Regions from separate parts of the Homo sapiens genome. Here region 1 is linked to region 2. Evidence: fine-mapped expression QTL. A gene starts in region 2. The other region holds a variant in brackets. All regions are shown on one strand. Distances are from middle to middle. Region 1 overlaps DPF3 (double PHD fingers 3). Region 2 holds the start of DCAF4 (DDB1 and CUL4 associated factor 4).

Region 1 (3,005 bases), 110 kb before region 2:
TTCAAACAGAAGCCCCTGCACTGAGGTCTCTTGTATCTAAGATCTGCCCCAAGTGAGCTCCAGGAGGCAAGGAGGGAGGCCAGCCATGTTAAAGACCAAGTTAAAGACCAAAGTGGCTGCAGCACCATGAGATACCAGTGTAGTCCCCCACCTTCTCTCATAGTCCCTTACCCTGAGGCTGCTCCCACCAGCCCCGCTTACCTTTTTCCCATCCCCACCCCCGGCCCCCAGCCTCTCCCATCCCACAGGCAGGGCAGGTTCCTGGTAACAGCATTGCCCAGTGTTGTCAAAATAGCGAGGAGCTGGAAAGAATTCCAGAATGAAATCTATGTGCCTCTGCAGCCTCCCAACTGACTGCCACTGTGGCAGCTAAACCCGCTAATGTGCTAAGCGTTTTCTGGCAGGGCCAGGAGGCAGGGTTGGTATTTTGGGAGCTGGGAGGGGCTTGGAGGCAACATCCTCGGCAAGTCTGGGAAGGAGGTGGAGGCAGGGAGGCAAAGGGAACCGACCCAGAACACTTCCCATGACGTCACCGAGAGCCACCTGAGCTGCACCTCAGGATTCCTGAAACACTGCTGGCGGAGCGGAGAGTACGGAGAGTACGCTGGGCCCGGTGGGCAGGGCTCAGCAGGGCATGGAGGCTTTGTAGCTAGGCCTGGGGGGAGAGGGCGCTCTAGTATGCCACTTGTCATGTACACTTTTTCTGCTGACACAGAGCAGTGTGCAATGCGTCCGGGAGGCTGGGCAGCCCAGGGCTGGCCCAAGCTCTGTTTGCCTGAGTTGGCAGTGGCAGGGCCCATGGTGACCAAACAAAAGACGGGAAGCCAAACGCCCAGAGGCTGGCGGGTGAGGCTCCCTGAGAGGGCTCTGAGGATACAGGCACTGGCGAAGAAGGGCCAGGGGCTCATAGGGATAGGAATGGGGTTGGGGGCAATGGGAACTTGCAGGCAGGGTCCCCTCTGGTTTCCCAGACACACCGCATCGCCTCTGGGCATCAGCCTCTCCACACTGTCCTTGCTTTTCGGGGGCTCCTTCGAAAATGCTTCAAACCATGACACCAGGAAGGGGAGCAAACCACCAAATCTGAGATCCAAACAAGGTCCCAGCATTCCTTTGTCCCTGATGGGCTTGGCTCCAAATTCTGGGAGAAACCAGAGGGTTTTGAGAGAGTCAGGAGAGGGGTTCAGGGGACAAAAAATAGGGCTGGTGAAGAATTCCTTCCGGGAGCCGTCTGGTAGCAGGGAGTACCGTGGGTGGCAAGGCCGTGCTGCTCAGGTGAGGGGACATGGTGTCATTCTGGGAACAGATGAGCCAGTAAAACCCTGACAGGATTCAATCTGGAGGAAAAAAATCCCAGCTGATAGGAACTGCTGAGCGCTTGCAGCTTTTAAAGCCCCTCTAGCAAAAGGATCTGCAAAAGCTTTGCAAACTCTGACCACGCAGCCAGTCAGCCACTTCCCAGCCCACAGCAACGAGAGAGTTTTTGCTACATCAGAACAAACCCACTCACAAATATCTCATCCTGGCCTCCCCCCCGGCACCCATTCCTTTTGGGTCTGTGTGCCTGCCTTCCTCAGAAATGACATTTTGTCAGAGCAGTGAGAGATAGTGTTGCAGGGGCCAAAGGCAGCCAGGGGGCTGGACTGCAACTAGGCTCCCCTGCTCACTAGCGGCTGACCCCAGGCAGGG[C/T]ACTTAACCTTTATGAATCTCATTTTTTAATCTGCAAAAATGCAAATAATGAAGCTGCTCTTACAGAGTTGGTGAGAGGACTAAATGAGATGATGGATGCTGGGGCTCGAGCACAGAGATGAGGGGCTCCATGACGGCTGGTCCCCCTCCTTCCCACCTTCCTCTCCAGGGCCCTCCGGCACCATAATCAGTGTGGGAAGGATGCAGAACAATGGGAGTTTAATTCAGAGGTTGGCGAGGCAAAGGCATACTTTAATAGAATTCTCTCTCGCCCAGTACATGGTTTCTTGTCCACCCCACCCACCTTTCCCCATCTCTACCGGCTGATAGTCTCTCAGCTAGTAGACCTTTTCTTGTTTAGCAGGGCCACTTTTTTTAAAAACTCCAGACGGGTACCCTCCATGTTGCAGGCGACGTGGCCCTGGATCACTCAACTGACTGTCATTTGAATGGTGCCCCCAGAGTGAGGCAATGGTGCAGCCCTCCTAAGGCCCTTCCTGAGTGTCCCTCCTTCATGAAGATGATTCTGAGGCTTCCCAGGCCTTCACCCTTCTTTGAAAGCCCATAGCAGTTCATATGCACTTCTCTTCTATGCTCACCAAACTCTGCCTTCATCATACTTGGGGGATGTGTGTGAGAGCGAGAGAGAGAGTCCAGCAGGGATTAGATCTGACTTTTATATTCTCTACAGTGCCTGGCACAATGCTAACACATTTGATGAGGCCAGAATTACCCTGATACCAAAACCAGTTAAAGACATTACCAAAAAGAACTTTTTCAATATTTTAATTCTTACCTCATACCCTAGATAAAAATTAACTTGAGCGGGGTGTGGTTGCTGACACCTGTAATCCCAGCACTTTGGGAGGCTGAAGCAGACGGATCTCTTGAGACCAGGAGTTTGAGACCAGCCTGGCCAACAAGGTGAAACCCCGTCTCTACTAAAAATATAAAAATTAGCTGGTCATGATGGCAGGTGCCTGTAAGCCCAGCTACTTGGGAGGCTGAGGAGAACTGCTTAACCGGGAAGGCAGATGTTGCAGTGAGCCGAGATCGCGCCACTGCACTCCAGCCTAGGCGACAGAGCGAGACTCCGTCTCCAAAAAAAAAAAAAAATTAACTCGACATGGATCGTAGAGCTAAATGGAAGACTAAAACTTTCAAACTTCAGAAAGAAAACTTGGAAGAAACTTTTTCTAACCTTGGGTTAAGCAAAAATTTTCTTAAATAGGACATAAAATGCATGAGTCGTAAAGGAAAAAAATTGATACATTGGACTTCACCAACATTTTAAATGTCTACTCTTTGAAAGGCAC
Region 2 (2,716 bases):
CTATCTCGGCTCACTGCAACCCCCGCCTCCCGGGTTCAAGCAATTCTCCTGCCTCAGCCTCCTGAGTAGCTGGGATTACAGGCGCCCGCCACCACGCCCGGCTAATTTTTTGTATTTTTAGTAGAGTTGGGGGTTTCGCCATGTTGGCCAGGCTGGTCTGGAACTCCTAGCCTCAAGTGATCCACCCGCCTCAACCTCCCAATGTGCTGGGATTTCAGGCGTGAGCCACTGCACCCGGCCTGACTACTCTTTCCCTGGCAATTGCTGCGTCACCAAGCCCCAACCCACCCTGCTGAGTTTTCCTTCCAAGACTCCCCTCCCATCCAGCCGGCTTGAACCGGCCTCCAGTCACGTTGTTTGTTCAGCTAGAATTTTTCTCTGCCTTCTCTTCAAGGCCGCTCAAGCTTCATGAAGCGGTTCTTTATTCTGACTATGCCCACTTCTCTCATTTCCCTCATCACCCGGCCCCGCTCCACATACTGCATTTATCTATAAACTCCTGAGAGCCAGGAGTTTAGCCTGAAATCCTAGCTTCCTGGTTAAGAGCTGAAATGCCTTCGCACGGCGTGCAATGGGTGAACCCCACCGCCTGCTTTCTAACGGGTCCAAGCCGCGGGCAGGGGCCTGTGTTACGGAGCCGCATGACACACCAGGCCTACTGCTGGACCCCAACAAGCCTAGCCTCTGTGAATCCAGCTGTCCTCACAAACTGTCTCTTCGGGACACAAGCCCATCAGAGGCTTCCGTTTTCCTTTCATAAGATCTCATAACCGTCAGCTGATACCTGGGACAGGCACAGCACACATAGGTCATTCTAGAAATATTGGTGGTCTGAACAAACTCTAAGCTGGAGAGGACATGAGAATGATAGATCCGATTCCTTCTCTCAACAGAAGAAATCAAGGCACAGAGAAGGGAAGAGACTCGCCCTAGGTCCCACAGCAAGCAGCAGTACTGGAGCCAACACGGAGGCCCCCCGGTTTCACGGTCAGGGCTCGCTACGCTACACCCTGAACGCAGACCCAGGGCAGCGGCCTCGGCCGCCTGAGGCCACTGCCGAAGACTTCGCCGCCAGTCGTAACATCACGTTACTTCTGTCCCTCGCCTCACAGACTCCTTCGCTCTTTCCACTACAGCGAGAGGACTTCTCCAGGGCCGCATCACCCTGCGGAGGGAGGAAGACACGGTCTCTCACGAAAGGGTCTCCAGACAGTTCCGCTGCTCCGGGAGCAGCCCCCGGCCCCGCCCCCGCGTGCGCCTGGCCCCACCCCCAAGCGCTCCATGACCAGCCTCCACGTGCATCCGCCCCAGACAGGCCAGGCCTGGGAGGAGCCGAAGCCCCACTCCCCGCCTTCTTCATGAGATCGTCCCTATTGACGTCGACAGACAGAAGCCGCGTCCAGTGAGAAGGAAAGAACGGCCGCTATAGCCCTATCGGCTGCTACAACACCAAAACGCATCCACCTAACTGGCTGACGCTACACCTTGGTCTTTCCGGGTCCTTGCACGCTTCGCTCCAACTCCTGCAGAGCTGAGCCGGAGGGGAATCCGGAAGGGACACGCTGAACAGGTAAGACTGTGCTGCCTGGGGTGCCTACTGGCATCGATTCGAGGGCTGCCGCGCTCCCGCTGCAGAGCTCGGGGTGGGAGACAGGCGCGGCGAGGAAGGCCAGGGAAAGGGGCGGGGAGGGGCGGGGAGGAGTGAGCACGTGGAACGCCGGCGCCACCGGGCCTAGGTGGCAGCTGGGCCGGCGCGCTCCGCCCGTTCTGGGGCGCGTGGGGCCCTCCGGCCGGATCAGTGCTGCAACCGTAAACACGCAGGGAGGGCACCCCGAGTGTCGCCGCTGAGGGCGTTTCTCTAAGCGCTTCTCTGAGACCTGCTGCTGAAGGCCCCACCCGACACCTGGCGGGGGCTGGGCTGCGGGCCTTGGGGCGGTGTCCCCTGTGAATGTTCAGGTCAGCATAACAGGTTAGGTGTGGTTGAAGCTTACGAAGTGGCCGGCTCTGTGCTGCCGGCTTCACAGGCGCTAACATTTGCCAGCGCTATGATGTCCTTGTCAGACGCAGAAAGGGGTGCAGTTTGGTTGTCCGTCGGGGTAGCGCACAACTAGCAAGTGATGGGGCCTGGGTTTGGCCCTCGCCTCCACTCTGAGTTGTGAGTTAGCGAGAAAGCCACGCCTCGTGGGCTCCCCGGGGGCTTCAGAAACCATGACGCCTTTCACCATGGTGTTCTACAGGCATTGTCTTGTGACTCCAGCAGCGCAGCCAGAAGCAAAGAAAACTGAGGGGACGGCTTCCTAGAGGAAACAATTCCAAAGTCCCAAACTCTGATTTTAAATAACGATGGAAATTAGAGTCGCGGTGGTGTTCTTTTTTTTTTTTTTTTTTTTTTTTTTTTGAGGCGGAGTCTCGCTGTCGCCCAGGCTGGAGTGCAGTGGCACGATCTCGACTCACTGCAGCCTCCGCCCCCGGGGTTCACGCCATTCTCCTGCCTCAGCTTCCCGCGTAGCTGGGGCTACAGGCGACCACCACCTCGCCCGGCTAATTTTTTGTATTTTTAGTAGAGACGGGGTTTCACCGTGTTAGCCAGGATGGTCTCGATCTCCTGACCTCGTGATCCGCCCGCCTCGGCCTCCCAAAGTGCTGGGATTACAGGCGTGAGCCACCGCGCCCGGCCTGAGGTGGTGTTCTGTGGGTAACCAGGCCTGGGGGTCCT

The links. PIP is the estimated chance that this variant, and not a neighbour inherited with it, causes the effect.
Region 1: its variant is fine-mapped to the expression of DCAF4 in tibial artery (GTEx, PIP above 0.99).

Annotation. Positions count from the first base shown.
Region 1 is chr14:72,812,021-72,815,025 of GRCh38, forward strand. All of the region lies in intron 1 of DPF3 (double PHD fingers 3), which reads right to left. Among named protein-coding and RNA genes, the nearest start is that of DPF3, 81 kb to the right of the region's middle. The variant C/T (reference allele first, on the strand shown) is at 1,690.
Region 2 is chr14:72,924,974-72,927,689 of GRCh38, forward strand. It overlaps DCAF4 (DDB1 and CUL4 associated factor 4), which reads left to right and starts at 1,491. Exons shown (of 14, transcript NM_015604.4): 1 at 1,491-1,570. RefSeq lists enhancers at 1-469, 870-969, 1,260-1,529, 2,201-2,716 and a silencer at 1,700-1,759.